4 separate regions of the Homo sapiens genome follow, and regions 1, 2 and 4 are each linked to region 3. The links come from fine-mapping of genetic effects on gene expression. A gene starts in region 3. Each other region holds a variant in brackets. All regions are shown on one strand. Distances are between the middles of the regions.

Region 1 (8,182 bases), 25 kb before region 3:
AGTCCAACCTATTTATTTTATAGATAATAAAATTAAGCATCAGAAAACAGATGTATTCTAAGTTACATAGCAGGACAGTAGCTGATATGTGAACCCAGGATTCTTGACTGTAAGTCCAGTACTTTTTTTTTTTTTAACTATGTTGGCTATCCTTGTCCTAATACTAGTTATACTATAGCTCCACAAGTATGGATAAATGTGCTCCCTGTGACTGAGTTTCCTCACCTGCAGATCAGAGGAAATAATTCCTATTTTATCTATCTCACAGAAATACTGACAATCAAATAAAATATTAGAATTCCAGAACTTTGAGTTCTGAGGCCATGTTCTTGCTGTTGTACTATGATGTTATTAGTAAATAGATGTGGAAACACTGAAAAGCATAAGCAGCACTACAAAATGCAGAATAGTACTATGGGAAGTAAGGAGTCTGGGCTCTATCTAGACTCTGCTTCAATTGCTCCATACCTGCAGGCTTCCTGTCTACATCCCCACATGCAGGAATGCAGGAGGGAACCAAGGTTAACAGCAGAAACAGACCCTGGTCCCCCTGTAGGCAGCTGGTCTCAGGCATGTCTCAGAACAGAGCAGGTGGCTGGAGGCAAAAAATACTGGCAGGGCAGGGCTTCTGCCCTCTTAGATCTCTCTAGCCCTCCTTCCTGCTCTCACAGTGGGCATCCCACTAGTCAATGAGTATGAACTTGTGTTTGGAACCTGGGACACTGCACCTAGACTCTCACCTTTACAGAAAGAGGATGACGGCAGTAGGACCTAGAGGGGACGGAGGCTGGGTTTCTGGGACTTCAGTTGGTGGTTTCCTCATGTCTGTCTCCTACTTCTGCCCCTCCTCACTCCCCTCATCAAAGGCTTCATCCCCAACTCTCCTGTTCTCTGTCTCCTCCTTCTCTTCCTCATGACTCACTCTCTCTGGTCCTTCAAGGAAGTTGCCCACCCCCTGTGTTTCTCTTTCTTCATCCTCAATATCACAGGGATCTCAAGAAAAAGCAACCCCTCCACCCAGACCCCCACCACAATGCATGTTTCTAAAGTACTATTTTTTAGGTGCCTTTTCATAAGAACAGCCCACTGCATCTACCTTATCTCTCTTTTTAGAGTGACAGTTACCATTGAGAGGAGGTCATGATTTGGCTTAGTGGTGTTAGAATAAAGAGATCACACATCTTCGCTAGCCTTAGATTCATGGGATTGCTGGGCTAAAAAAACCTAACAAGGTCATTTAGTCTAAGCAGCCACTGGAAGCAGATTTCTAAGTACTAAACGTATTCCTGAACACAAAGAGCTCAATAGTTCACAGGCAGCTCGTTTTGAGGGTCCAAGAAGCTCCTCTCCATTGTGTTTGTTTTTGAATTGTTTCTGTTCACTAGAATGTCAACTCCATAAAGGCAACAAGATTTTTGTCTGTTGTATTCATTACTGCATCATTATTGCTTAGAATAGTGCCTTGCACATGGCAGGTACTCAAATATTTGTTGAATGAATTAATAATTGGTCTTATTTATAACCTGTGGGGCCTTTCAAGATAATCTAATCCTTTTCATCTTCTACATGACAACCCCTCAAATAATTCCAGACAGTTGTCATGTTCCCTGAGTTGTCTCCCTCCCTGAATATTTTATGAAGAATTTCCAGATCCTTTGTCACATTGGGGTGTTCTCCGAACGTACTCCAGAATTACAAAGCAGCAAGGGGGACACCAGAAATTTTTCTAGCTAGCCCACACTCTCATTTTACAGACAGGAAAATGGAGGTCCATAAAGGTATAGCAGCTTTGTTAGAAGGGGAAGCCTAGACTCAGGGTTTTATCTAGTTGGAGATGAGCCAACATAAGAAACTTTGTAGGCAAAACAAATCCCAGACCAATACATTTCCCATCATCTTGATGCTGTCCCTATCAGTAGAAGAATTCCAAAACAAGTGTCTCCAAGACCAAACCACTGTAGTTTTACATGCAAGCAGACTCTTTATTCATTCAACAGGCATTGAGAGTACTGTATGTGCTATGAACTATGCTGAATTTTGGGGATACAGAGTTGAAACAAAAGTCTCTACACACTTGATACTTACAGTCTAGTGGAGACACCCGAGACAATAATTAAAATTCTATAAAATGGCCATAGTGATAGAGGGGCAGAGTCGAGAGGGAACAGAGAAGGAGCCCATAAGGCAGCCTTGGGGAGGTGGTGAAGTCTTCCTGGAGGAGGAGGTGGCATTTGAACATCAACAAGACCACACGCATCTGGGATGGGTTTGTGACTGGCTTCAGCACCAACTCTAACACATAGTTCTATAGCTGGCAGAGGAGGCTGCAGGGCTGGTCTTAACCAGACTAATGAATCCCAAAGGCTGTTCTTCCTGTGGACACGATCAACCAGGTCTGTGCTGCCCCAGAAACAGCACAGTATGGTCTTTTAACCAGAGAGCTGAACCAGAGAGCTCATAAGAGTTGCTTCCTCATGAAAAAATCCAAGTTTGGCTGTCCTGCTGTGAGGTTGGAGGGAAGAGGCTGGGCTTTCCCACATGCAAAGCCAGGTGGCAGCCTCCCTACTACCACCACCAGAGGAACCTTGGAGGAAGGATGTGACAAAGGCCACGCAGGATGAGGGAGAGGGTAAAGGCAGGTTTCTGCAGACCTTTTCAGAAGACTGCTTCAAATGAGCAGGAACGAGCTTAGAGCACACGTTTCTGAAGCCTGCAGCAGGGCTAGACTCTTCTAAGGAATAAGATGGCCTTTCTAACAGTGGCCTGGACATTCCAGGAGCAGTAGCGTTGCTCTCTACCCCAGCAAGGCTTCAAATGTGCAGGCTACACATTCACTCTTTCCCGTAGCACAATCCACCGCCAACATGCGGCTTCTAAGCGTCCTGGAGAATGAAGGCTGACTTGCCAGAAAAAGTGAGCCCACAAATGGATGAGGAATCAGCCCCAGCTTGATTGCTGCCTGGGAGGATTTGGATTGGATGGTGGAAGTGAATATGTAAACCGAACTCCAGATATTGTTGGGGGCCAGAAACCATGGTCATAAATCTGGGAAGCCAGACAACAGCATTACAGGGCTTCGGGCCTTCAGGAAACGATAGTTAGGATGACCAATAAATCAGACTTGACTTCTTAACTGAGCCAGAGCAGCGAGAAAGGCACCATCATCTCTGCTTAAGGGAAAGATGATAAAGCTAATCCAAAGGAGACTTCTGTCTTTTGTGAGGCTGCTGATGCTGAATAAGCCATCAAGGCGTGCCTCAGTTTTCCTTACTGCAAATGGTGGGATAAGTGGCTGATTACTAGAAAATAGTGTGGTTTGTTGAGGTTCTCTAAGAAAACACTTGAGGCAAAATACAACAAAGAAGCCTTTTTTGGGGGTATGATTTGTATCCTCCCTGATCACTGGTCTACCATTGATCTGTACTATGGAGAGGAAGTGACTTGAAGTTTACAAAATGGTTTTCCATAATTCTGGGGCATGGGGCAGCAGCAGAAGCTGCTCTCAAAACAACCCTGTGAGGCAGGTAATATTATCATTAGTGCTCAGAGGAACCTGGCAACTTACTTGGAGTTCATAGCCAGCAAACAGCAGAGCTTTGACTGCAATCCGGTCTTTAAACACCAAAGCCAGGCTGCTGCACTGCCTATGTAAACGAATGCAGCACAATTAGAGGGGCATTAATATATCAGAAATGCTCCCCTGACATTAAAGGCCAGGCCAGTGGGCAGGTGGAACCCTCACAAAGGGCTCACCTGCCGTAGTCCAGGAAATATATATGAAGTGCGTACTGGGGCAAGGTGCTGTGCTAGGTACTGGGGACAGCAATGTGCAACGTACATAGGTCTGATCTCTGCCCTCATGGTCTCTAGTGGAAGACATAGACAAGATGCATGTACAGTGAGACAAATGGTTGAGAGGGCAGGTGCCAACCCTGACCACACCAGAGGTTTGGGGACATAGAAATCTAAGTGGGTTTTACTCCAGTTATCACGCAAGATATTCCTCTCCCTGAACATCTTTATCATAGAGATCATTAAACAACTGAAAAAACAGTTTGGACTACTACTTCTTGTATA[T/C]TCTTCACATAGTTTTGAAACTCCTTTGTCTAAGACAGATTTTCTTAAAGCTATTGTAACTGAGTGTTTACTATGTGCCGGTAGCTAGGCCCATAATAGGTACTGAACAGTTGTTAAACTAGTAAATGCAGAATCTTCAAAAAAGCTCTGCAAAGGAGGCATGTTCATACCCATTTTACAGATGAGTAAAGTGTATTCCAGCTTGGAGGTGATGGGAGGTACGTATCTATGTGAGGCCTGTCAAAGGCTGACTGATAGATAAGTGGCAGTTACCTCTGGTGGCTACCCAATGCACAGTCCATCACAGCTTGTGTTGGCTTTTGCATGGACACTGACAGATGCAAAGCTGTATGTGCCAAGAACAGACTAAGAGTGCCCTGGAACTGGAGTAGGGACAGTGCTCTGGGATGGATGACCATTCATCCATATCATCCAATGCTGGATGAGTACTCATCCATATCATATTGATATGGAGAAAGGGAGGAGGCAGGCTGAGAGATGCTGGTCCTGCAAAGTTGTGGTGTTCTCTCCTGGTCTTGGAAGGGCATGCCACCTGTGAGAGGTCCCAGGTGTCCTTGCCCTGAGCACAGCTCCTCAATGATCAGACTGGCTGTGAAGGTGAGTGGCATGGTGACCAGCCCTGCTCTGACTTGGGACAGTCTGCATGGAAGGGACAGCTGCCTTGTGGAGAGCTATACCCAGGCAGGTCACTAGGGGACATTATGCAATGGAAAACCATTATTGGGGAGTGGAGGGTTAGACTGCACTTAAAGGAGGTTCTAGTGTCTTGAACCACTAGGGTCTATTGCAGCTTGAGACTCTGCACCCAAAAATCTACTTCCAACCTAGACTCTCCCAGACTCTCCCTGTGCCCTAAGTCTTCTGGGTGACAGCTACCACCCAGGCCTGGGAAGACTGCACAGCTGAGGCTAGGACACGGGGCAGCAGCAGAAGCCTGAAGTCCACAGACAGAGTCAGTGGTGCATTAGCACCAGCACTTACTGAGCACTGGGCATTGACATATGTATGGTGCACAATGGGATTCCTCCCCTCAAGGATCTTGAGGTCTAAGTGGGAAAAGAGGAAGACTATTTTTATTTGAGGATTGACCACAAAACAAAGAAACTGGTTTCGTTTGTGATTTGAGGAATCATTTTCATTACTTCAGGTTTGGGTATAATCTTTATCTCTTCAACCAAATTATAAGTTCCTCAAGGGTGGAACCTTGTCTTCTAAGTCTCTTACCCTTACCACTGTAGCACATAAAAGGCCCTCTAGGCACTTTTTAAATGAAATGATGTACGGGTAATGGGTCGTAAAAAGTGGGCTAGTCTTAAATCTACTGAATACCACAGGCCTAGAAGGATGAATGGGTTGAAGGGTTAATTAAGAAGGAATTGTGCTCTTGCCCTGTGTCAGGGCACAGGGTGCAAACATGAGCAGCACATGGTTTCTTAGTTCAGGGAGCTCAGTCCAGAGAGGGCCATGGTTTGGTCAATGGTACAGTAGTGTAAGAGGCCATAGAGCCCAGTGGTTATGAGTGTAGACTCTGGAGCCAGATCATTTGGGTTCAAATCTCAGCTCTTAGGAGCTGTGAGATGTTGGGCAAATTAGGTAATTTCTCTATGTCTCAATTTCCTCATCTTTAAGTAGCCATAATAATGACAGTACCCAATATAGGGTTGTTGTGAGGATTAAATGAGTTAAAACATAAAATATTTGCAAATGTATTAACTATTAATATATAGTAGAGGCTGGGACAGTGGCAGGGAAGAGGCCTAATTCAGACTGGGGGAAGGGTGCCAGGGAGGGCTCTGGGGAGATGCACAGGTGTCTTCTAGGAGAGGAGAGGGTAAGCCTGGCTGGGGAACAGCATATTCAAAAGTCTAGAGGTATCACGGCTGGGAGCTACATGCCATGTGGTGTAGCTCTGCCCTAGTGCCAAGGAGAGACTGGCAGATGAAGACAGGCCAGAGATGTTTCAGAGATGTTTCTGGTTCCCTATCTAGGAAAGGTCAGGCCAACAGAGGCTTGGCATTACTTGCTAAGGCGTGTAAATTTCATCTTGAAGGGAATGGGGAACCTTAGGAGGCTTTTAAATAGGAGAGGGTGATATTATCAGCTTTCTATTCTGAGTTGCCTACTCGGGCTGTGGTGCAGAGGACAGGTGGTGGAGGGGAAGCATGTGGAACCAGGAGGAAGAGGGTCCTGATGGGAGGCCATGGCAGTAATGAAGGTGAGAGGCAGTGAGGGTTGCTCTAAGGAAGTGGGGTGGAGAGGGAAGCAGAGATCTGAGAAAGATCAAGAGGTTAAACAACAGAACTGCATATACTAAAACACCATAACTGACAATACATTGAGCCCTTAACCACGTGAGCCCCTGTGCCAAACACTTCGCATGGAGCAACTCTTTTAGTCTTTACCCAAACCCTATGAACCACAGTGTGTGTGAGGGTTGGGGGCAGGATGGGGAGGGAATGTCCCTCCTCCAGAATGTCCTTAGGAGCTGAAGGACAGATAGATGAGATACAAACTGCTAACACATCTGATGACAATAAAAAAGGAGGGTGGTTTTATTAAGGCGTAAGTAATGATGACGCATCCAAAATAGCTGACAAAAGGCACCAGAGAACTCCTGGGCCCAAATTAATGTGGTTCCAGTGACCAGGGTTCCCAGGGATGAAGGGCTTGGTGGGTGCCCACTTCAATTATTTAGGAGATGAACGCCAAACTCTAAATTTCCTGTCAGTCTGTTGTGTGTGTGTTAGCGTTTTCACAGATCCCTGCTCAGGCATTTGGACTGGGGAGAGCTGTGAGTAAGGCTGGGGAGTGGTGGTGGGGGGGTGGTCTAGAAATGGGCCCGATTTTCCTTATGAATGATCTTGATGTGGGTGTCACAGGAATGAAATCAACAGATGGCAATACATTTGTAGGAAATGAAAGAGACAGATTTAAATCCAGAATCACAGGAACCCTTAAACTGCTTCTATGCAAGGAAGGCATATGAACATTAAATATTTTTGAAAGGATTAGCTCAACTCTGATCTGTCTCTGTCCAAAGGTGGGAGACAGGGATGGGGAGAAAGAGGTTGGTTGTTGTCCTCATGATGGAGCAGGAAGGATCAGAGAGTAACAGGGTGGGCGGAAAGGGGGGCAGAGTGAGGTCCCCATTCATCTTAAACTGTACTAGCTCTTGACAGACAGGGAGTGGGTGGCTGTTTATCTCTCAAACCTCAGCTATTTTCTCCAGCAACAAGGTGTAAACTAACTTTCCTCAAGGCAAAAAATCTTCAGCTGCAAGAGGGGAAAAGCACATCAAAGGTATAGAGCCCACAAAAGAAGGAGAGACCTGCCACTTAAACCCCCTTTCTGTTCTTTACCATGGCACCTCACCCAGGGGTTTTGCTGTGAACCCATCAATCTTTCCATAAAAAGGCAACCCACTCCTCTGATTTCCTGTCCATGGAAGGGAGAAGTTTGGGGTTTCTTTGGAAAAGACAGAGATGGGGTGAGGGTTGGGAGGACTCACCACCACCTACCAGACTTGACTATCATTTTAAAGGATACATCAGTCCCCAGTTCCTTGAATCTCAAACCACACCAAAGAAGACAGGTGGGAGGATGGGGGAAATGCCCTCAACTTGGGTCAGGTCTATTCCAGTCATGGTAAAGATTGTACCAACTGGTTGGCCCTGGGACAAAAAAGCTGAACCCCTCTCAGCTTCTGATATCCACAAACTAAGGAGGCCAAGCACTGCAGGAATCACCATCCCTGCCTCAGACTTCCACCTCTTCCATCAAAGCTGCTTCCATCAAGTTTATCTTTGCAAGTCAAAGGTGCCTCCTAAACATGGTACCAAAGCAAGATTTTACATGTTGGGTGTGCTTCCACCTGTCTCACTTCCCTGCCTGAAGCCTACGTTCCCAGGGTGCATTAGGGCATCCTGTAGGTTGGCACCAGGTGCCATCATGTCAGCAGCACTTTGCCCATGCTTTCAAAGGGAAAGAGGGCGTTTTGATGGGCAAAGAGGAGGATGTAAGGGCCTGCAAGGTACAGGATATTTGCCTGCCTCTCAGTTGCATGGAGGAGGGGAAGGGATGAGTC
Region 2 (8,182 bases), 71 kb after region 3:
TCAGGAAGCTGCTAAAAGGAGCAGTCTTGCTATGTTTTGGTACAGCAGCTGCACTGTGTTGTGTATCCCTTTGGTCCCCAATCAGTTTGGGCTCTCCAAGGCCCACAGGCTGAGCCAGCTGAGATGCCCCAAACAGTAAAGGTGGTGGCCTCCCCCCAGGCACTCCATCCCAAGGAGAAATTAGAATGCTGTTAGCTGTGGAATATGGGTGAGGGTGGCTGGAGGCTCTTCAAAGAGATGTAGACTCCCACACAATAATAGTGGGAGACTTCAACACCCTTCTGACAATATTAGACAGATCATTGAGACAGAAAATTAACAAAGTTATCTAGGACCTGAATTCAGCTCTGGATCAAGTGGACCTGATAGATATCTACAGAACTCTTCACCCAAAACCAATAGAATATACATTCTTCTCATCACCACATGGAACTTAATCTAAAACTGATGACATAATTGGAAGTAAAACACTCCTCAGCAAATGCAAAAGAACTGAAATAATAACAAACAGTGTCTCAGATCATAGCATCATCAAATTAGAATGCAAGATCCAGGTCCCATTTAAAGAATCAGTCAGGCCACATCTCGACAAAACAGCCATGCCTTGCTGCGGAACCAGCTCTGCCCTTGTTGGCTTGGACTCTCCAAAGCCCATAGGCTGGAATTGCTGAGTTGTCCCAATAACCAAGGTGGTGGCCCAGCCCTCCCACCACACACTCTCCCCTAGGGAGAGATCAGAGCTCTGTCTATAGAATATGGGAGAGTGGGGGTGCTTGAGGCTGCCCCGGCTGGGAGGTCCCACCCAGTGAGGAGGAATGGATGGGGTCTCGTTTAAAGAAGCAATCTGGACACATTCTGGCAAAGCAGCTGTGCTGAGCTTGGGGGACCCTTCCTCATCTGGACTGCTTGGACTCTCCAAAGCCTGCAGGCTGGAATGGCTGAGTCAACCAAACAACAAAAATCACAGCCCACTTCTCCCCCCGGGGGCTCCATCCTGTCTCAGGCAGGCTCCATCCACCCTGTTGCCGGTGGCTGCTTGGAATTCCAAGCTAGTAAGTCTCATCTTGTGAGGTGCAGTGGAAGTGGGGCCTGCAAACGGATGCTGCTTGGCCCCCTGGATTCAGCCCCCTTTTTAGAGGTATGTACATACAGACCTCCCACCTTGCTGGGGATATCGGGGCCAGGGTATGTAAAGCTCCTGGGTCTCTGCATGCCTGAGCAGCTGCTCTGCTGAGATTCCACACAGCTCTGTCTCAGGCTCAAGGCCCTGGTGGTGTGGGCTCATGAGGGGATCTCTTGATCTGAGGGTTGCAAAGATCTGTGGGAGAAGCATGGTTTCCTGGGTTCACACATTAACTCACCAATTCCCCTGGCTGTGGGTGGGGGTTCCCTTGGCTCCACGTTACTCCCGAGTGGGCTGTTGCCCTTCCCTGCTTTTCTCCATTTTCTGTGGGTCCAGTTGTTTTCCTGATCAGTCCCACTGTGAGTACCTGGATATTTCAGTTGAAGGTTCTGTATTCACTCATCCCTTTTGCTCCTCTCTGTGAGTACCACACCACAGCTGTTTCTATGTGGCCGTCTTGGCCCTTAGCATTTGAAGTGAGTTTTTCAGTTCTATTAGTTCAGTTTGGTTCTTTCTTAAAACAGACATTTCATCTTTCATCTCCTGTTTTATTTTATTGTATATCTTACAATCCTTGGGTTGGATTTCAACTTTCTCCTGAATGTTGATCTTCCTTCTGATGCATATTGTGAATTCTGTTTTTTCACTTCAGCAAGCTTGAGAATCATTGCTGGAGAATTAGTGTAATTGTTTGGAGGTCAGAAGACACTCTGGCTTTTTGAGTTTCCAGAGTCCTTGCACTGGTTATTTCCTGTCTGTGTGGGCTGATGGTCCTTCAATCATTGAAGTCCCAGTCCTTTTGATTTTTTTTTGTTTTTATCTAATTTGATGCCCTTTGGGGTTTGATTATGGTATAGGTGGGTTTGATTGACCGGCTTCAATTCTAGTCCACTTCTGCATTTTGGAGGAGCCTCCTCTGATTACTATCTCCATGTCCACGCTTTTGTTGGGTGTTCTGGTCCATGGGGCTCCCTCTGTATCCTTGCTGAATTGGTCCTAATATGCTGTCTGTGTGCTTCCTCAGGAAACATGGGGTTGAACCTGCCTGCAGAGTTCAGGCACAAGCAGGACTGCTAGGCTGAAAGCTCTAGCAGGTGTAGCCTATCTGGCTATGAGAGGCAGAGTTGGGCAGGGTTGCCCACCCTGCTGTCCAGGTGTTTCCAAGTTTCCAGGGACAACAGGAAGATGCACTCTGCAGGTGAGTTCACACAGAAGCAATACCACTGTGCCTGCAGCTCTAGCAGGTACTGCCTGCCTGGGCTACCTGTGGTATGGGTGGGTGGAGTGGCCAGACTGCTGGGTGAGAAGCTGCCAGCCCCATCTTGCAAGGGGAGGGGGGTGGTGGAACAATCTTACTGCTCCCAGGCACCACAACTGCAGCCTCTATTGGGGCTATGGCACTGGTACTGGTCTGCTCCAGGGCCCAAGGCTTTTAATGATCCCGTTGGACTTCAGAGTTGCCCCCGCAAAACATCTGGGTAACTCTCTGCCTCAGTCTTAAAGCACAATGTGGGGAGGTGCAGAGTGGCCAGGGGGATTCTCCTATTCCTAGTCTTACACAAATCCCTGTGTAGGGTGTGAATCCCCCTGGGGGCTGTCACTTACTAACCCTTTCCCATGTTGGAGAGGTTCTCCTGGCTCCATGCTGAGCCCAGACAGGCTGGTGCCCAGCTTCACCCCTCACTGTCCTCTATGTGCCCCTGCTGCCTTGACAGGTCCTGACATGATTTCTCAGATGATCGGCCTGCAGGGACAGTGTTCCCTAGCCCTTATGCTTTCTCCCTACGAAAGCAGCACACATGAGCTGTTTCTAGTCCACAATTTGGGCCCAACCCCCTCAAGTTATTGAAATTGCTTTTGTAGGGGAGAATTTTTTCTTGAGGATGTATGTTGTTGATTAGGATACTTTGGCTTTGATTTTGGGTGCCTGTTGTAGTGTGATCTTTGTGTATGACATCTCTGGAAGTATGCAGGGTTAGTGGTCTCTGTCATTTCCTTGGTGTCTTAAGGTACAATTATTAGTTGAGTTTTTGTGAAGTTTAGCTGGGGACTTGAATGCCAATTGAGCCAGTCTTTGTTTGGGCCCCCGTGGTGGCAGCAGTAAGGTGAGCGTGCCTGTTTTTAGGCCCCAGAGCAGCTTACACTGCTTCTAGTGTTAATGAGTCTTGGAGGGCTGATTCTTGGGCCTTCAGGTGTTTTGCTTAGAAGCTAGTGGTGGGAGAGGTGGGCCAGGTGTGTGAGTTTGCTCTCAGGCCCCTGAGCAGCTGATGTTGTGTGGGTGATGGCAGTAGCAGTGGTGGAGCAACCCACTGGGACCCAAGTGGTTTTTGTTGGTGTTCCTGGAAGCTGGGATGAGTTCAGTGGGTTAGTCTACAGTCCCATAGACACCTCTAGCAGGGGAGTCTGTATTGTCCTAAGTGTGCTTAGGAGAGCTTGGTCTCCCCTGTCTCTTCCCCAGCTGGGTGGCTACTGTAGCCACATCACCTCAAACTCAGCCTAAGTGCTGGGCACAGCGCCTTGTCAAACTCTCAAAATGGTGCCAGCAATGGGCTTGTGACCAGAGAGGGAGAGACCTTGCTCAGGTGAGCAGCATGGGCAAGAAGCTGTGTGGTCTACTTGAGTTTCAGTTTCACAGCAGTTCATAGCAAGATGTTGAGTATTGTCCTAGGTACGCATAGGAGAGCCTGGCTTTCCCATCCCTCCTTGATGGGGTGGCAGGTGCA[G/A]CCACATTAACTGAAATTTGGCCCAAGAATGGGGTGCAGCCCAGTGTTAAACTCTCAAAATGGCACCTTGGGCCTACCATCAGGGAAGGCGGGACCCCTCCCAGGCAGACAGCACAGGCAAGGTGCTGAGCAGAGTGTGACCCACTCACAGCCCAGTCTCACAGCAGCCCATTGCAGGGCAGTGGGTATTGTTCTAGATATATGTAGGATAGCCTGGTATCCCTGTCCCTCCTTGGCTGGGCATCAGTTGCAGCCACATCATCCTGACCCAGGCCAAAGGGAAAGGTGCAGCTTAGCATTAAAGTCTCAAAATGGTGCCTTGAGCCTGGTACCCTGAGAGGACAGGGTCCCTCCCAGGCAAGCAGCAGCATGGGCAAGAAGCTGTGAGGTTGTGCAGTCTTCTCACATCTCAGTCTCAATAGCAGACCACAGCAGGGTGGCAGAGACCCTCTCAAAGGTGTGTGGGAGCAGCTGGACTCCCCTGCCCTTTTCGCCTTAAAGCAGTGCAGTGGCAGCAGCCATGCCTGCAGATCCCTCATGTCTAGGCTCTCAGAATGGCTCCCAACTGAAGTGGCTCGAGGATCAAATGCCTGTGGAATTCTGTGTGGGGTTCCCTTTCTGGAGAAGTATCTCTGCAATCTTTAGGTGGCTCTTTGTGTCAGGCCTGAGGTCCTAGTAGGTTGAGGGTTTCTTCCATAGCCAAAATCATAAAAACCCATTTAGCAGCCCTGGGGGTTTCTCTCTGTTTCCCCACATTCAGGAGCCTCTTCTGGCTATCAGTCAGTTCCCAGATGGGCAAGGTGCCTCAAACCCTCTCTTTACTTACTTTTAGTGCTTCCTGTCTCTCCTCTGGAAAATCTGAACATTCTCTCCTGGATGCCTTGTTTGAACTGTGAGTATCTACTTACTATTTTGGCTCCTCTCCATGGTGGAGGCATGTACTACTGTGTCTAGTCAGTCATCTCGACTCTACTCCTCACTTTCATTTTTGAAAGGTAAGTTTGCTGGATGTAGAATTCTTGTTTGACAGTTCTTTTTTCTTTTAGTACTTTGAATATATCTCCTCACTGCCTTCTGGCCTCCATTGTTTCTGATGATATGTCTGTTGTTATTTTCCTGGGATTCCCTTTTATGTGATGAGTCATTTTTCTCATGCAGCTTTCAAGATTTATTTTCTTTCAATAGTTTAACTATGATGTGTCTGAGTGTGGGTCTCCTTGTGTAATTCTACTTGAAGTTCATTGAACTTAGATGTGTAGATTAATGTTTTACATTAAATTTGGGGAATTTTCAGCTATTACATTTTTGAATATTTTTTCCGTTCCTTTCTTTCCTCTTCTTTTGGTACTTACAGTACAGGTATGCTGGTGTTCTCATTGATGTCCCACCTTTCTCTGAAGTTCTGTTCCTTTTTTTAAAGTACTTCGCCCCCAACCTTCTATTCTGTAATATTCTTAATCTCTATTGGCTTATCTTCAGGTTTACTGATTTTTTTAGTCAGCTGAAATCTACTTTTGAGAACCATTAGTGAATTTTAAATTTTAGTTATTATACTTTATAACTCTAATTTCCATTTTTTAAAAATAAACTTTATTTTTTTAGAGCAGTTTTAGGTTCACAGAAAAATTCAGTGGAAAGTACAGAGAGTTGTCATATATCTCCCACCTCCACTTATATGCAGCCTCCCCACTATCAGCATCCTGCAATGAGTGGTGCATATACTACAATTAATAAAGCTGCATTGACACATTATTATCACCCAACATCCATAGTTTACATTAGGTTTCACTCTTGATATTGTGCTTTCTATGGGTTTTGACAGGTATGATAATGTATCCAACCATTTTTGTCATCATACAGAATAATTGCCCTAAAAGTCCCCTATTCATCCCTCCTTCCCCCTAGACCCCTGACAACTACTGATCCTTTTACTGTCTTTGTGGTTTTGCATTTTTCAGACAGTTACATGGTTGGAATCATACAGTATATAGCCTTTTAAAATTGGCTCCTTTCACTTAGTGATATACATTTAAGTTTCCTTCATGTCTTTTCAGACTTGATAGCTAGTTTCTTTTAAGGACTCAAATAATTATCACTTGGATATACCACAGTTTGTTTATCCATTCACCTACTGAAGGACATCCTAGATACTTCCAAGTTTTGTTCATTATAAATAAAGCTGACATAAATATTTGCACAGGTTTTTGCATGGACATAAGTTTTCCACTTAACTTGGGTAAATTCTAAGAAGCATGGTTGCTGGATTGTGTGATAAATGTATGTTTAGCCTTGTAAGAAACTAATTGTCTCCAATGTAACTGTGCCATATTTCATTCCCACCAAGCAATAAAAGTTCCTGATGTTCCATATCCTCACCAGTATTTGGTGTTGTCAGTGTTTTAGATTTTGTGATTCTAATAGGTGATACCTCATTGTTGTTTTAATTTGCAATTCCCTAATGACGTGTAATGTTGGGCATCTTTTTATATGCTTATTTTCCATCCATATATCTTTGATGAGTGTTTATTTGTCTTCTGCCCATTTTTAATTGGGCAGTTTTTTTTTATTGTTGAGATTCAAGAGTTCTTTATATACATTTGCTTCTTTTTTTGTTTTTGCTTTTTTTAAAATTTTATTATTATTATACTTTAAGTTTTAGGGTACATGTGCACAGCGTGCAGGTTTGTTACATATGTATACATGTGCCATGTTGGTGTGCTGCACCCATTAACTCGTCATTTAGCATTAGGTATATCTCCTAATGCTATCCCTCCCCCCTCCCCCCACCCCACAACTGTCCCTGGTGTGTGATGTTCCCCTTCCTGTGTCCATGTGTTCTCATTGTTCAATTCCCACCTATGAGTGAGAACATGTGGTGTTTGGTTTTTTGTCCTTGTGATAGTTTGCTGAGAATGATGGTTTCCAGTTTCATCCATGTCCCTACAAAGGACATGAACTCATCATTTTTTATGGCTGCACAGTATTCCATGGTGTATATGAGCCACATTTTCTTTTTTTTTTTTTTAACTTTTTTTTATTATTATACTTTAAGATTTAGGATACATGTGCACAATGTGCAGGTTAGTTACATATGTATACATGTGCCATGCTGGTGTGCTGCATCCATTAACTCGTCATTTAGCATTAGGTATATCTCCTAATGCTATCCCTCCCCCCTCCTCCCACCCCACAACAGTCCCCAGAGTGTGATGTTCCCCTTCCTGTGTCCATGTGTTCTCATTGTTGAATTCCCATCTATGAGTGAGAACATGCGGTGTTTGGTTTTTTGTCCTTGCGATAGTTTACTGAGAATGATGATTTCCAATTTCATCCATGTCCCTACAAAGGACATGAACTCATCATTTTTTATGGCTGCATAGTATTCCATGGTGTATATGTGCCACATTTATTTATCCAGTCTATCATTGTTGGACATTTGGGTTGGTTCCAAGTCTTTGCTATTGTGAATAGTGCCGCAATAAACATACGTGTGCATGTGTCTTTATAGCAGCATGATTTATAGTCCTTTGGGTATATACTCAGCAATGGGATGGCTGGGTCAAATGGTATTTCTAGTTCTAGATCCTTGAGGAATCGCCACACTGACTTCCACAATGGTTGAACTAGTTTACAGTCACACCAACAGTGTAAAAATGTTCCCATTTCTCCACATCCTCTCCAGCACCTGTGGTTTCCTGACTTTTTAATGATTGCCATTCTAACTGGTGTGAGATGGTATCTCATTGTGGGTTTGATTTGCATTTCTCTGATTGCCATTGATGATGAGCATTTTTTCACGTGTCCTTTGGCTGCATAAATGTCTTCTTTAGAGAAGTGTCTGTTCATGTCCTTCGCCCACTTTTTGATGGGGTTCTTTGTTTTTTTCTTGTAAATTTGTTTGAGTTCATTGTAGATTCTGGATATTAGCCCTTTGTCAGATGAGTAGGTTGCAAAAATTTTCTCCCATTCTGTAGGTTGCCTGTTCACTCTGATGGTAGTTTCTTTTGCTGTGCAGAAGCTCTTTAGTTTAATTAGATCCCATTTGTCAATTTTGGCTTTTGTTGCCATTGCTTTTGGTGTTTTAAACATGAAGTCCTTGCCCATGCCTATGTCCTCAATGGTATTGCCTAGGTTTTCTTCTAGGGTTTTTATGGTTTTAGATGTAACATTTAAGTCTTTAATCCACCTTGAATTAATTTTTGTATAAGGTGTAAAGAAGGGATCCAGTTTCAGCTTTCTACATGTAGCTAGCCAGTTTTCCCAGCACCATTTATTAAATAGGGAATCCTTTCCCCATTTCTTGTTTTTGTCAGGTTTGTCAAAGATCAGATAGTTA
Region 3 (8,182 bases):
ACCCAAGGAAAGCATAGAACAAGAAGAAAAAAGTCCCATTAACTGTACTTTGAGGTAAGATGGAGTTACAGGAACAGCGGAAAAATAGCATAGAAGTTAAAAGATGGGAGCAGTTCCACACAGAGAAGCCCGTCTACAAGGAATGCTGCTGAAACGGTGAGTCTCTCAAAAGTGTCTGAGGGATTCGGCAACATGGAAATCACAGACGAACTTAGCAAGAGCAGTTTCAGAATGGATAGAGATCAGCTTGGACTAAACTGAACAGGCAACAGAGGTGAGCGGGTACAGCCAAATCCTCAATAATCTTGATTCTGAAGGAGGAGTAGAGGGACAGGCAGGACCTGTCTCTTGAAGCTATGACTGAGCTATGACTTCCTAAAGTTTCACACAGGCCAAACTTTTCCAAATTGGCAGTGGAGATGGTTTCCATACTATCAGCCCAGCCTGACCATTAAAAGTTCCCTTATAGCCCCAGAAGACTCAAAGAGAATGAGAAGGGGCTTTAGCTATTGCTGGTTTTCCCTGACCTTGTCTTCATCTCATTCAACCCTGGCACAAGAGCCCCATTCCTTGCTCAAATCTTACTCAGGAAACCTCTTCAGCGTTGTACTCCAGCATTCAAAACTGTTCCATTATAAACGTCTTCCACTTCTGTTGGAAAGCTTCTGCATACTCAAGAGGTATAAAGAAGATAGGAAGAGCTTCCTGACATCCTCTGTCTGGTCAAGATCTGACTTTAATCTTTTCCTTTTCCAGACTATGTTATTCTGGGCCCACCCAACAGACCCCAAGCTACCTTTCAAACCTCATCTCCTACTGTTCTCCTTCTTGAACACTCCACTCTGGCCCACTTATGCCCCCTTAAAACACCTTCTATTTTCCTACCTCCATATTTTTGCTGGTCTTCCCCTTTGGAATTAGTCCCTCCTCCTTGCCTACCTGAATATTACCCATACCTCAGAGTTCACCTTGAGTCCATTCACCTCTAGAACACCCTGCTTGGCCCGCCAGCGCTCTCAGGCATTTCTTCCACACCACCAAAGAGCGCTGCTTTTCTCTGCATTTGTCGTCTTATAATGAGAAGCAGTGAAAACTGCCTGCATATTCCTTTTTCTTTGGTGCTGCTGCCTGCACAGCAGAAGCATTTGGTAAATGTTTGTATATTGACAGGTTGATTGAGAGAGTCAGGAGCCCTTCCTCCCCGAGGGATGAAGACTTGCAGCAGTCTGTTCAAGGCTGCACTAGCAAGATTCACCAGGGCCAAATGAGAAATAAATAGGTGCCACAACTCTTCACCAGCCTGGTTTCTATAGAATCATTCGAGGAAGTGCCATGGAAATGAGTTCAAGTTCAAATTAAGCTCTGGCCATCATAGCCATCAACTATTTCAAATGTTCTTTTAGAAGCCTACCCCTTCTTGGAAAAGTTTACAATTTAAACCACAAAACCTCAGGCTTTCTTTCAATCCTGTAAACAGGAGTTTCTTGCCATTTTATGTTGTGGATTTCCTCTGGCACAATCCTTTTCAAAATATTGAAAAGGCAGTTTTCTAATCCAAACCCTTTCACCATATTGTGGTTCATGTGACAGAACACTGCACAGAGGTGAAAAATCACTCCATGCTATTTTTTACAATCCAGATATTGGCTAAAGTAGACATAATAACTAATAGACTGCAGCAACTTTCATGCAATATGAATTCCCATTAAAAAGTTTACACTAGCAAAATTTTCCAGGCATAAATATCTTGTGGAAATTGGTTCATTCAAATTTGGGCTCCAAAGTGGCCTTTAACACATAGCAATTATTGCAACCATGAAGAAACAGGTAGACTGTGGACACAAATCTATAATAATATGCTTTATGATTTATTGGGGGTCTATTTTTGCTCTCCTACATCTACATGAAAACCAAGAATCTTAAAATATCAAAAGTGGCAGTTTAAAAACAAAACCACTTTCCAAATCCCAAATGCAAGGATTCAGTGGGGAAGGGTCAGGAATCCTGTCACTGATTCATATCCATTAAAGTTGGTTCCAGTGAGGACATACCTTCCCTATAGATTCCAGGAAGTTCAACTACCATGTCTGTTTATATCTCAACTTGACTTCTCCTAAGGTAAAGTAAGTTTTACGGAAATAATTCTGTATTTATATATTTGCTTTTACTTATTCATAAGAGATTTGAGGCAACAGAGAGTTCCGCTGTGCAGTCTTGGGAAAAGTGAGGCTGCTTCTGCACAGTCACTCCTGGCTTCCTCTACCAGGGGCCCCAGGCTGCTGTGGGGAGCACTTGCTGTCCTCCAGCAACCCACTGCCATCAGGGTGAGGCCAGGGAAATGAGAGGAAGGGCTCTTGCCCTGCCTGTGGCTTTCTCTGACTTGGCTGGAAACAATGGATTTATTTTAAAAAGCAGTTTTAAGAGACACATGTGTTCACATATAATCATTCTTTTGAGGGTATGTCAGTTTTTAAATGGCATGATTCGCCCCAAATAAAATATCCCCCATTTCTCACATCTAGCTGTCTTCTCTGGAAGAATACAGTGTGCTGAGGCATATTGGAAACTGGGCCTCACATTTCTTCACTAGGAATTGAGTTTTCTCAAGGATTAAGCTTTTGTGCTTAAAGAGAAAAGTGCAAAATCTTTGGGAGGAAAAAAGGAAAACAACGACCTGTCAAATTTCTTTTAGCGCCTATGACTAGTGTTAACTGACATGCTCTCAGAGTGCAATAAAAAGCCTGCAAACTGCTGCTAAAAAGATGGTTTGACCTTTTAAAATGGGAACTCCCCCACCCCATATCCATATTAAATAGACGAACCTTGGGAGCTCTAGAGTTTTAGATTAATAAGTGAAATGAGGTTGAATTTCCAGAAAAAGGGTTTCCCTGTAGGCTGCAGACTGGCTAATTAGGGTGTTCTAGACCTACATTGTAACAGCAGGTAGAAGGCAGGCCCTAAACCTTTTAGCTATTGTCGTTGCCACCTGCTCAGAGTCTAGTTCTGAAAGGAGGCGGGTGCGGAGTTATGAAAATTTGGTAAATATAAAAGTCCCGGACGCGACCGCCCGTAGCCTGCGGCCCCTGGCGGTTGAGGAGCCGCGGCGATCCTTGGTCTTCACCGCAGCAGCCAAGCCCGGCGCGCACCAACCGGCGCTGCTGAAAGTTGGAGAGCTCCCAGCTCGCCGATAGAATTCGGCGGTGGGCGCCAGGGGAATCCCTTCCAGTGCCGCAATTAGGAAAGTTTTAAAAAGTAAGGACCCTAGACAGACAAGAGATCCATCCTTTCCTTTAGCATAAGAAACACCCCGCGCCGCGCCAGCCGAACGCTGCTCGCACAAGGCTATCCGCCCTTCTTGGCCGGGACGCACTCGGTGCCTTCCAGCTCCCCACCAGAACTGGTCCAGGGGGCGCGGAAACAGAGAGGCAACTGTGTCCGGCTTGTGGTTCCAGACGGAAACGCCTCCGGGCTCCCTGGCCCGGGGGACAAGGGTTCGAAACTTCAACAGTCGCGAGGGCAAGGACAGAACTACCAACTCCCGCTCGGATGCCCGGGACCTGCTCTTCCAAGCCCGCTCCGGTTTCTCCAAAGGACGCGCGGCACAGCCCATGCGCCCCCGGCACTCCACTCCACTCCTCTATGGTTTCCCCCAAACTCTTCCCGGGGAGCCCCACAAAGCACAGACGGCGCCCTGAAACTCGCCAGGCACTCGCCAGCCATCCCCACCTCCGCCTCTCGAACCCTCCTTGTCGCGTTCTTCCCGCCCCGCACCTTTCTCCTCGCGTTTCTGGGAAGTCAGAAGCAAACCACGAGAAAATGCCTTCGCAAGGAGCCTCCCTACACCCGCCCTGTCACTGAAACAAAAGCGTAGGGAGGAGGGAGGTGGGAGAGGAGGCGGGAGGAAGGTTTAGAAAGACGATGGGGACAGCAGTAGGAAGGAGCTGGGGAGGGGGGTCAAGGTGGCAAGCAGAGCTGGGGGCCCAGAGTCCGCTCCCGTGCCGCGCGGCGAGTCGCTTACATGCCCAGGTCGCTGTAGGTGTTGAAGAACTCCATCTGATTGCACGCCTGAATCCAGCCCACCACCCAGGTCTCGTGGCGGGGGATGGGGGGCATGACCACGCGGGCGGAGGCTTTGAAGTAGGGGGTCTTGTAGCGCAGGACGATGGGCGAGGTCTCCTCGATGCGCGTGGGGCACTGGTCGATGGTGGCGCACACATCGTACACCACGATGTTCTCGCGCCGGATCCGCGCCTTGCAGGTGATGCTTTGGATACAGCCCATCCTGCAGCCCGGTGCCGGCACGGCGCGGCGTGGGGCAGCGCGGGGGCCCGCGCGGGCAGCCGGGGGCGCCCGTCACGCCGGCATGGCGACGCGCCGCTCGCTCCCGGTCAGACTCAGCTCGCACCTAGGAGCGGGGAGCCGCCGGGCATCCTTGGGGAAGCCCCCTCCTCTTGCAGCCGCGCGGGGTCCCCGCTGCCCCGACGTCCGCCCACGCCCGCCCCCTCGCTCCGGCAGGGCGCGCGGAGGGTGCACTCCTAGGAGGCGGCGGGTGCCCTCGCCGGCTCCAGCGCCCGGGCGGAGGGCAGGGAGGGGAGCGGCGCTGCGAGGAATGGTGCCCACCCCGGGCCGGAGCCCCCCGCCCCTCGCCGGAGAGGAGGAGGCGGCAGCGGCGGCGGCATGGAGCCGGGGGAGGGCGGCGGTGGCAGCGCCCGGTCTGTCTGCCTCCGCGGCGGCAGCAGCAGCAGCCGCCGCCGCCGCCGCCGCTGCATGAACCTCTGCACCACGGCTGCCCCCCGCGTGCAGCGCACCCAGCGGCGGGCGAGCGGGCGGCCCAAGAGGCAGGCGGAGGCAGCAGCGGCGGCGGCGGCGACCGGAGCTCCCGCCGGCCCCGCCCCGTAGCCGGACCACACCGACACTCCTCGGCCCGGCTGCCTCGGCCCGGGGGGCGCCAGGAGGCTGTGGCCCGGGGTGGAGAGCCCCAACGGCTGGAGCAGCACAGGACGTGCTCCGCGGAGGAAACTGGCTGTACGCCATGAGTTTTGTCCCTATTCGGCTGCCGTCCGGGTGGGGGGGGGGTAATGTGTAAGGGTGGGGGTGTTTAAAGGGCCGCTAGCGCCGGGGTGGGGCCCCGCACGTGGGGCTGAGGCGGGGCGGGGCCCTGGTAGGTGGTGCCCTGGGGTGGGGGTGGGGGACTAGGGCGGGCCCAAGCGCCACCGGGTGGGTGAGGCCGAGCAGGGCGCGGCGCTGTCCAGAGTCCAGTGGGGAACCCGGTAGCCCAGTAGGGGCTGTAGAGTGAGTGTTTCGGGCAGCAGAAGGGTTAGGGGAACAGCTTTATCAGAGATTGGTCGTTATTCAGAATATAGCTTGTTGGATTAGATTTAGGCTTGAGCCCTTTTAGTATCCTACCTTCAGAAAGGGTGAAGGGCGGGCTCCAGCAGCGTTACTAAATGCAGTGTATTTGCCTCTTTGCCTGACTGGGTTTGTTCTGGAAGCTCTTCTTTCCACCACTGTGTGTAGTGGGGATACCGGAAGAATCCCTCCGTACTCCAGCACTAAGTCTCTCATATGCCAGAGTTTTGGCAGACATTGGGCATTGTGTACAGTATGACCACGGTCATGTGTCTGATACTGCAGTCTAATGTGCCAAACAGGAAGAATATTTAGCAGATGCTTTTACTAGGCATCTTCTTACATTTTTATTTTCAAAGCCAATAGCTTCTAAGTATTTCTTCTGCGATCATTGAACATTTGCTGGATCTGCTGCCCAAGTGTGAAATACTGACTAACAGGCCGCAGGAGGTGCTAGAGTTAGTCTTTAGCTAGGACAGGTGTGACGAGTAATTTAAAAATTGATTGAGATCTAAAAGCACTCTTCATCCTTGTTTTAACTGTTCTGACACCTTGGTTCACTTTATAGTTAACAAAAAAGCAGTTTTTCCCTTTGATGACTCGTCTCTCTCATTTTACCGTGTAGCCACAGACCTCAATCACTGGTCCTTTCATTCAGCAAAGGCTGACTGCCTGCCTGGCAGGAGCCAAACATAGTGCTAGGTACTAGGGATTCAAAGTTGAAAAAGAGCACATGGATCACTGGAGAAAATAAACCTGTTAACAAGTTATTATAGTAAACTGTGACACCTGCTTTAGTGGGGTTGTGTATCCAGTGCCGTGGAAGGCCAGACATGTAAATCTCTGGCCACATGTAAATCCCTCAGTGGTCAGAGAGCCACTCAGTGGCTCTCTGGCCACTGAGAGATTTACGTGTGACTTTGCTCAAGTAGTGACATTTAAATTGAATACTGACAGACTGTAGAGTCTCACTGAAAAGAGAAAGGTGAATGAGTAGTACAGGACCAGCATTTGGCAAATGCAAAATGCATAGAGATATGAAAGAACTCATCCTGTACTGAGGGGGAGAAACAACTCACAGTCAAGGCATTTCTCAAGGTGTTATGTGTCGACCATGGGCATCAGAATCACTGTCCAAGAATCAATTGGTTGTTGATAGACCATATCTTTTTTCTTTTTAAAATTAAGACTACAGACTTTATTTTGATTTTACTAGTTTTTCCACTAATGTCTTTTTTTCTCTAGAATCTAATCCAAGATATGATGTTGCATTTAGTCATTACATCTCCTTATTCTTCTCAATCTGTGACAGCTTCTCAGTCTTTCTCTGTTTTTCATGACCTTGACATTTTTAAAGAGGACTGGTCAGATATTCTGTAGAATTGTTCCTCATTTGCATTTATCTGATGTTTCCTCATGATTAGACCAGGGTTTTGGATTTGGGGGATGAATACCATGAAGATGAAGTGCCTTCTCATTGCATTATGTCAGGGGTACATGATAGCAATATGACTTTTTACTGGTGTTATTAACCTTGATCACTGGGTTTGGTGAATAATTTTTTTAACTTTTAGGTTCAGAGGTACAGGTGCAGGTTTGTTATATAGGTAAATTGCATGTCATAGGGGTTTGTTGGACAGATTATTTTATCACCCTGGTAATGAGGATAGTACCCAATAGGTATTTTTTTTTTATCCTCTGCCTCCTCCTACCCTTCACCCTCTAGTAGGGCCCAGTGTCTTCTCTTGATAGGACCTTATCTTAAACTTCAGTGGAAGCCAATGAAGGCAAGCCATGCATTTTGAGAAAAATTACTCTGCATCCATATAGAGAATAGAGGAGGCAGCGTTTCAGAATATTGTGATGACAGATACTTTGACCCTCGGCTAGCTTGGGGCAGTGCTGTGGGGCTGGAGAGGCCTGGCTGCATTTGCATTTAAGAATCACTTAGGAGGTAAATGTATTTACTTGGTAACTGAACAAGGTGATAGAAGGGGAAGCAGCTTGGGACTGTGGGTGATGTCATGTTAAGTTCGAGGTTCTTGGAGGTATTTGGGGGGCAGGGTGGGGTCAGAGTTTGAGTTTCAGTGGTTATTAGGTTCCAGGCAATAGACCAAAAGGAAAGCATTTCATTGGGGAATGTAGTTATGTTTCTTAATTTGAGTTGCTTGTCAGGCTGCAGTTTTGTGGATAAATAACTCCTTTGTCTTCTGGTGACACATGTTAAACCTTCATAAACGGGGAGGGGAATGGCAGCCTTTCCCAAAATATAGGGAAATCACATAAGGAAGAATATCTTATTTTTCAAACTTAAAATAAGATTTTGTTATATTTAGTAAAGCCAATAAAATGTAACATTATTCATGGACTTGGACCCTTGACATTCTCAGAGGGTTCATCCATGACCTTGGTGAGTCTCCAAAATCATGAATGTCATCATGGCATATAATTTCCACCATAAAGTACGGTAAAGTGTAGCTGAAAAATGTAAAGAATCTTTTTAGACTCTTAATGGTTCTATGAATATGGGGCCAAAGTAATTTCTAAAGCTACTTAAATAAATTTTGCCATTAAAATAAACTTCTTACTTCATTACCTTATATCTTTACCTTATTAACGCCCTATTTCCCTGACTCTGTGAAGAAAAAATTGATCACAGTATGAGAATTATTGTGCGGATGTCGATGAGAAAGTAAGGAGAGCTAAGTGGTACTGGGACACAAATGCCAGTGTTAGGAGTGGTCATTCACTAGCTGAGTGGCTGGCAAGTACACTCTGGCCTCCTGGCAGCCCCATTCAAATTTGTGTCTCAGCAAATTACCTCATGACAGGG
Region 4 (8,182 bases), 95 kb before region 3:
GCTTTTGTAAAAATACTCTATAAATCATAGTTCTTTTATTTTACTGATCAGAATTGCTGCTTAGTACATGCTTTTGACCTATGAGATTATCATTCCAGCACCAGGAAACAGGGAGTTGTAAAAAGGTCCACAGAATGGGAGGTGGGTAGGGGACTAGTCTCCAACTCTCTCATGTGCCCCCATCTCATGTGAGATGAGATTCGGGAGATGTGCTTGGCTCTTCAGTTGGCTAGGTATGTGAGCTACAGCAATGACCCAGGAATGTAAACTGCATGCAGCGAAGGGCCCATATTAAGGGTTCAACCTCAAAACAGCTGTCACAGATAAAGGGAATCTGGAACATTCAAATTTTCTTTTACATAATAGTAACAAGGATTTCCTCTTGTTCTTTAAAGGACGGATCCAATTGTCTCTAGTTTTAGACTCATTGGTTTGTGGGTGAATGGATTAGGGATGATGATAATGTTTTGGTTGGAGACAAGAGGCTGTGAGTTCTAGCTAAGTGTTACCATGTTGTGAGATGAAATTTGGGAGATGGGGCCTTCTCTTGGCTCTTCAGCTGGCTAGGTATACCATTCTGAATAGATGACCTAATTTAACGAGGCCTCAAATTCCTTCGGGATCATGGACTAAAAGATCTCAAAGGACCTGATTAAGAAAACTTAAGGCCTGATGAAATGCTTTTTCCTACGTAATTCAAAACTCTAGTGCCACCAAGAAGCCATGTGTTGTGTGTGTGTCTAAGTCCTGAGACCACCCAACTAAAACTTAATCAAGGCACTAAATGAGCCCCTTTAAACTGATGGCATCTGGCGTCAGGCCCAGGCATTTTGAGGGGAAGGAGGGCTGGATGGGAGGGCAGAGGTGACCTCAACAGAGATTTCAAGGTTAATTCTCTCTTGTACAAGAGACTTTCATTTGGCAATATCCTGACTAAGCTGAAAGATAATGATCCACAAATCACAGGAAGAAAAGGGGTCATTTCCTTGTAAAACAACAGTAACTTGAAAATAATTGGCTAAAGGGCAATAGAGCATTCTGCCAGGCTGACTTCAGAGCTGAGACACCCAACTGTAGAGTTCACAATGGTACCAATAACAATAATCACAATGTATACAGTGCTTTTAACTTTCATAAGCACTTTCCCATTTTTTTCATTTTGTCATTATACAACTTCCCAGAAAACTGCTGTGGGGGTAATTTCTTTTAAAACTCTGAAAAACTGTGATTTTTCATGGGAAACAAGCCTAGCTAAGTATGCTACACCTTGCTTTAGATATATAGATAAGCTTCTGAAAAAGTTATTTGTAAATATAGTTGTGTAAGTCATATCTTATTTTAATGCACTAGGGGAATTTGCAAACATAAATCTTGTATAGCATTTTGTAATGTAAATTCTAATTAATCTGTTGTTTGTTACAACTTTGGAGTTTAAAATACCAGGTTTTCTTAAAGTGGGGCCACATGGATTAGATTCTAGGGTCAGTATCCACTCCCCAGGATCCCATAGGGGTGGAGTCTAATTCAGTCTGGGGGAGAGAGTGCTGCCTGTGGTGTCAGCATGGAAAATAAGCTGCTTTGTACTTTAGCCATGGAGCTCTCTGGGACTGCCTTTCCCAAATAAAACAAGGAAACATGGGAAGGGACAGAGAATGCCAAACATAACAGCTGAATTATTTCTAAATGAATGTCTCCAGGTCCTCTGTGAGCCACTGATGTATTATTAATGTGTTGTTATAAATAACTTGCCATCAATAACTAATCTATAACAGAGTAGTTGATGGTTGGGGTGTGAAGTTAACACTACATAATTTGGAGCAGATCTCTTAGCACTCTTATGTAAGTAAGTACCATCCCCTGGGACTAGAATCTGAAATAAATTAGACTAAATTGAATTTTTAATAAAAGTAATAAACCCTGCTGCTTTTTATTCTCTATCCACAAACTCTAGTAGAAGACAGCTCTTTGGAGCCAACCATGAGATTGTAAAACTGCTCTGAACTTCAAATTTCTCCCTCTGAAATTAAGCTAGCAGTGTCTACTTCTTAAATCCACAATGACAATGTGAAAGTTTTATAATTAGTTTGCATGGAAGGGGGTGGTGAACAAGCAAATATATATACAACCATATATATGGTTGAATTATTGAGAATAAAGGGAAAAGCTCTTTTTTTGAGGTGGGGGAGGAAGGGTGATTCAAGCTAGAACTGCAAAAATCCTCACTTAAAGACTGGAAACCCTCAAAAAGAAGTTGTATATTGGCCTGACTAAAGGAAACCTGGCCTCTCATCTTTACTGGTTAAATCTTAGCAATACAGGCTTGCTTAACATGAGTAGCTTAGATTTTCTTTGAAGAGCTCTAAAGTTAAGTTAAGCCTTAGGAAGTAGTTTCTCACAAATGTTCAAGTTTGAGCTTCTGTGAAATAGAGCTAAAATAAATATATATAAAAATATACAGCGTATGTACATAGAAAGGCTACAGGTAGATATGTAGGCACTGGTGGCAAATATGCTAGTAATTATGCTATATGCATCATGTGTGCATGTGTGCATGTGTGTGTGTGTGTCTATGCATACACGTGTCCATTCCATATGTTCAGATCATTCAGAAACTCAAAAGAAACAGAATGAAAATGCTGTTCTTATTTGCTGAAATGTTCTTGAACCTTACATGGATTCATGGCTCATAACTTTTTAAATATAAATTTAGGGCTAATCATGGGAACAGAATAAGCAGCTGTAAACAAAATCAAGTTAGTTAGGATTTCACTAAAACATGGACAGGGCCCCAAATATCATAACTATTGCAGAATGTGGGAATTACAAAGCCAAATACTGTGATTAAAAATACTCTGAATAAGCAATCTTTTTGGAAAGAGGTGGGTAGACGGAACTAATGAAGTGTTTCCGTTAGTTCACATCAGCACCT[T/C]GGACAGTTCCAAGGAGGCTTTCTCCCTCAGAAAGGAGCAAATATCAGTATTTGTCTAGTTTTCTAAGCATTCATTCCATTGAGTGTGTTGATCTGATTATCAACTAATAAATGCAGAAGTATTAATGTGTCATAAAACCTTATTCTTTCCTCTCCCCATCACCCATTCTTTCACCACCCATTTCCCCAGCACCCTCCAGTCAGACAGCAGGAGTCTGTCTTACGACCACCTGGTGTGGATGTTTTCACTCCTACTTCTAATTGGCTGGGAAGCAGCATTTGCCACAGGCACTGTTTAATTTCGTTTCCATCCCCTGCATCTCACAGGAAAGAAATGGTCAATAGTTCAGATAAAAGAATCATCCTGGTCAGCTCCAAAATATGGCTACTTGCATGGTAATCACAGCAAGTCTGTCAAATCAGTGATTTCTTTATTCCTAAGAGGAAGGGATTTTTCCTAAGGATTATGGTTCTACCACCCAAGGAGCAGCCCTACTCTTCAAAAGTGGCTGCAAAGGCTGGCAAACCGAGAGGTCTGCTTTGGCTCAGAAACTCTGTTTGGCTCCTGCCACCCCTGGCACCCTCACTGCATGTCTCAGAGGCGTGTGATCCACACACAGTCAGGCCAGTCTGCTTCTACTTAGGAGGGATCACAACCAGAGGTGGCCCCCGCTTGGGCCTCCACATGAGGACCTGGGCATCATTGGCATTGGGTTTCACTAGTGCATTAGGGGGGATGGGTTCCATCCGGCTCAGGATCCGGGGCTGCTCCTGCTGAGTCCTGCCCACCAGCCGGGCCCGCTGCCCCAAGAGCTGAAGAGGGTCCACTTCAATGTCCACCCTCATCCTCCACTTGATGGTCTGCAGAATGATCTTCTCCTTTGTGGTGGTGTTCATGGCCACCAGCCAGGTCGTGAAACTTTGGTCTCTCTTGATTCTTGTGAGCAGTGGCACATTGCTGTCACTCACAGGCACTGCCCATGTCACACTGGGGTAGAAGTTGTCATTCATGCTGACGGAGAACCTGGAGATCTTGTTGGTGGGGCCAACCAGGGTCACAGTTTCTGTGGTGTTCCCGTACCAAGGGTAGCTCACCCCATCTGAGTCACTGATGGCTTTTACTCTCCCTTCCCTCAAGTCAGGCAGTTCCCAGCTTGACCTGGCAAAGCAGAAGACATGCACAAGAAAAGAAGAGGCTGAATGAATTTTTCAAAAGCTGGAGAGGTGCTCACTGCTTACTAACATAGTCAACTTGGGCAAAATGGGAAGTTCACAGGGGGAATTCAGGGCAAAAAGTTCTATGCTGTGCTGTTTCAGGATTAAATGAGAACAAACCAAAATAAAAATAACAAAGCCATGCCAAAACAAGTTAAATACAACCATGGCTGACCCAATTGAGAACAGGAAGCTCAAAAAGGCAGTTGTGAGACCACAAAGAGACATCAACTAGTTAGATGATGGTAATCAGCAGTTTAGAGGAATTCCATTACAAGAACCACTTTCTTGGAAATATGAATGTGAATAAGGTTTGCTTTTTGGGAAGAAATGATGGTTGAAATTCGATGTACTTGGAAGGCAGTATCTGGTGGAAAGAAGGGCAAAAGGAGGCAAAGTTAAAGGTTATATTAATTTCTTAGGAAATCATAGTAATAGAATTTCTACTTAACAAAGAGGGTTGTTTAAATTCTAGGCATCAGCCAATTCATCGCTTAGGCATAGAAAATCATAACATGAGAAAATCATGGTCATCTTCTGGAAACCATCTGAATGTGAAAGTTGTTCTACAGGCTGGCATACACTCTAATGCACCGCTCTCCCATTGCCTTCCAGTCCAGCCTGGAAGCCTCACAGCTTAGTTTGGCAAACTTGCCATTCTGGCACCTACCTACTCCTCCTGGCTGTCTCTGACCTTGTACAGGAGGAGGAGGAGGAGGAACCAATGTCTCTACCCCCTGCTGTAGACTGTTGCTAATAATAATTGCTGATACTTATTGAGTGTTACTCTATTACAACCATTGTGCTAAGTACATTATCTCAGTCAGTATTCAAAATACTCCACAAGATAAATACATTTTTATTTCCATTTTACACACAAGGGGATGAAGGCTTAAAGATGTTAAGGTACATGACAAAGGTCCTAAAGATTCCAAGAGGTGAAGCTGAGAGTTGTCTGACTTCAAAGTCCCTGGTTTTGGCCACTGTATCATACTGCCTCCCAAAGTACCCTTACACAGCGCTGGAGGGAGTTAGAATGGAGAGGACTCAGGCTGTCTAATGAGTTAGCAGCTCCAAGACCAGTCAGTCATGGAGAACTGGACTGGACCCCAGTAAGGGCAGAAGTCTAGTCAGCAGAGTGTTGATGCATGCTCCATATTTTCGCTCCGGGTACCAGGGATGATGCTTGGTAATAATGCACTAGAATTTAATAATTAAAGAGATGAGACTGCTTTATTCATCAGCTAAGAGGCAGTGGTCTTCTTTGACATAAAGTTCTTCCTCCTATGAGGTGACAGAAGATCCTGCAGGGTTTTATACAAGTTGTCTTAAAGGGAATTGCATTGTCAAGCTAGTGCTGATTAACATCTCAGCACCCTTACTATCACATGGGGACATGGAGACACTAACCACTGCCTCCTACTGACCCCCTACAGTACCTCCTAGGCCAGTCAGCCCCAGCCTGAAGTGAAGGGAGGGCTTGGCTGCCTGGGGAGGAGGTGACCCCACAGCTGCAAGAGCCTTTTTTCTTGTCATGCCCTTGGTAACTGCTGGGAATAGCTGCAGTGTATCATGGTTGGCAGACACTAAGTAAGGAATTGACCTGATGCAGAAAGTCAGAGAGAGCTCATTTTGCTACATATGCTTTTGCAGCTGGGGGGTAGTAGCTCCCAGGTAATTCTATGCCATTTCTTACTGTACAAAAGGGAGTACATGTTCTTTGAGTGGGTCAGAGGTTGTGCAGAGATCCAATCTGCTCATTGGGTTCATGAAATAACCATACTGGAGTCGGTTTCATGCCCCCAAGCAAAGGGCTAAGACAATTCTTCAGTCACAATACATCTATTTCCTGTGTTGCCTAAATCTTGTTTTACACTTTGGCTGTGACCAGTCCCTGCTGGCCTTTGAGTTCCTTCTTAGAATTGGAGGGCAGGTATTCCGAGCAGTGGCAGACTGTTCTTGCTCTCCCCCGCTACACACAGGGCTTACTGTGGCGTATTGCCTGGGGAATTTGGTTTTGAGTGGATGTACTTTTTATTCTGTTACAACACAGTCCTTTTCAGGCTATCTTGCTTTGTCTATAGAGTCTTTATAGTTCTCATATTTTTGCCTCCCATCTTCCTGCCCAGAGCTGTGTGAGCAGAGACTTGGGCCCAGGGTCTGCAAGTCAGCCTTGTAAGACAAATCATAAAACTTAGTTTGGTCCTAGGTTTTTTGAAAAACAACAACAACAAAACAACAAAAAACAGAGATAATACAATAAAGACACACTCTTGTGGCTATCTCAGGAGGGAAGGAAAATACCCTTTTCTTGGAGGAGTTTCTGGAACAGAGAAATACAACAGGCTTCTTAATCATCACATCAGAACAAACACATCTGGCCACATGTAGTCATTGGGAATAGTGACATTGGAGGTTACACTTTAGTTCCATCCACACTGTTGTTACTTCTGCAACTGTGCTTTTGGGAATTCCTCAGGTCAGAGGCATGTTCTCTTCCATAGCCCTAGGGAATTAGGACTACATCATTAAGGGATGGTTTGATTTTGGAAACAGCCAAAATTCATTACGATTTAAGTCTAGTGAATAGGGAGTTGCTATCTGAAAAATATCAAATTTTTCCTTTATGAAAAATAGATACTAATGTACACCCCAAGGCAGTGACCTTCCCTTCTTCCCTCTCTCTATCTCTCGCTCCCTTCCTTTCTCTTTCTCTCTTTTTTTTTTTTTTTCCAAAAGGAGAGTTGTGTCTATAAAATGCATGACTAGTTTATGTAGCTGATAAAATGTCTTTGGTAATGGTTTTTCGAGAAGTCTCTGAAAAGTTCCAAGAACAGTAGCACTATTTGAGTCACTCAATGACCATTTAAGGGGATTACTTTGAATGGAATGCCAGAGGCATTTCAAACTCCATATGGCTCAAACTGAACTCATCATTTCCACCATAAACCAAGCCGTCTTCCCCTGTCTCTCTGCAAGGGGTGGCCCACTGCTCACCCAATCTTCAAGGTCAGAAGTAAGGGCCATCTTTGGCTCTTTCCACACCCTCCCCTAGGCTGCCACAGTGACTGTATCACTGCATCCTGTGAATTTTGCCCCATAAGTGATACTTGAATTTATCTCCTTTTCCCCACCCAACTCTTACTGCCTTCACTTAATCCAAGCCCTCAGCATCTCTTACCTGGTCTACTGGAATGGCGCATAATTTGTCTCTCTGCATCCAACTCTGGTCTCTCTCAAATCCATCTTTTAGGTTGTCCAAGTGTTCAAACATGCAAATCTGATCATGCTCTTTCTATACATAAAATCCTTCCAAGGCTTTTCTATATGGACATCGTTGGCATCACCCACAGGGTAAAATTCAAGTACCTTAACAGGACATACATGGCTCTCCATCATCTGGCCTCCCCATCTCCACACACCATGCCTTTCTCACCTCCACTGCTGTGCCCTCTGCCTATGCTGTTCCTCCTCCTATTCAATTTCCACTGTATCGAACTACTACTCATCCTCTGAGAATCACCATATGTATCACCTCCTCCAGGAAGCCTTCTCTTCCATGCACTCATAGATATATCTACAACTACAGGTGTCAGATTATATTATAACGATCTGTATGTCTTTCTCATTAGATTACAGGTTTCTTGAGCCTTGGAATTATGACTTATTTTTGAATCATTAGTGTCTTGCACATGGCTGGCACATAAAACTTAATAACTATTTATTAAAAGAGTAAATACTTTATTTGAATTATTTTCATGACTATATTCCTGGAGCTTGGTAGAACTTGCATACGACAAAGTGTTTTATTACAGTCTTATACTTTATATATTTACTCACCTTTAAAAAAAATCTAACATCTATTCATTTAGAATCTATTATTAGAATAGTATCATGCCTTGCACGGAAAGTTGCTTATCCTTAAAAGGAGGAGGCACATTTAAATGAAAGTGAATGAAGTAGTGAATATGAATGTATTTTAGTGACTACTCGTGCCATCATATACCTACATACAAAAATGAGTGTCAGAGACTCCAA

Evidence for each region. PIP is the estimated chance that this variant, and not a neighbour inherited with it, causes the effect.
Region 1: its variant is the best candidate, but not a certain one, in a credible set for the expression of FAM78B in whole blood (TOPMed, PIP 0.52).
Region 2: its variant is the best candidate, but not a certain one, in a credible set for the expression of FAM78B in tibial artery (GTEx, PIP 0.72).
Region 4: its variant is the best candidate, but not a certain one, in a credible set for the expression of FAM78B in blood mononuclear cells (TOPMed, PIP 0.69).

Annotation. Positions count from the first base shown.
Region 1 is chr1:166,137,379-166,145,560 of GRCh38, forward strand. All of the region lies in intron 1 of FAM78B (family with sequence similarity 78 member B), which reads right to left. Among named protein-coding and RNA genes, the nearest start is that of MIR921, 13 kb to the right of the region's middle. RefSeq lists an enhancer at 564-733. The variant T/C (reference allele first, on the strand shown) is at 4,078.
Region 2 is chr1:166,233,101-166,241,282 of GRCh38, forward strand. The region is part of intron 1 of LOC112268276 (a long non-coding RNA gene); the gene reads left to right. Among named protein-coding and RNA genes, the nearest start is that of FAM78B, 70 kb to the left of the region's middle. The variant G/A (reference allele first, on the strand shown) is at 3,847.
Region 3 is chr1:166,161,968-166,170,149 of GRCh38, forward strand. It overlaps FAM78B (family with sequence similarity 78 member B), which reads right to left and starts at 5,034. Exons shown (of 2, transcript NM_001017961.5): 1 at 4,019-5,034. The coding sequence starts at 4,281. LOC112268276 (a long non-coding RNA gene) reads left to right here and starts at 3,910. Exons shown (of 3, transcript XR_002958633.2): 1 at 3,910-4,087. RefSeq lists enhancers at 3,901-4,803, 3,975-4,144, 4,245-4,294 and silencers at 4,685-4,744, 4,785-5,274, 7,309-7,368.
Region 4 is chr1:166,066,676-166,074,857 of GRCh38, forward strand. FAM78B (family with sequence similarity 78 member B) reads right to left here. Exons shown (of 2, transcript NM_001017961.5): 2 at 2,624-4,088. The coding sequence ends at 3,566. Among named protein-coding and RNA genes, the nearest start is that of FAM78B-AS1, 10 kb to the right of the region's middle. RefSeq lists a silencer at 2,824-3,024. The variant T/C (reference allele first, on the strand shown) is at 2,930.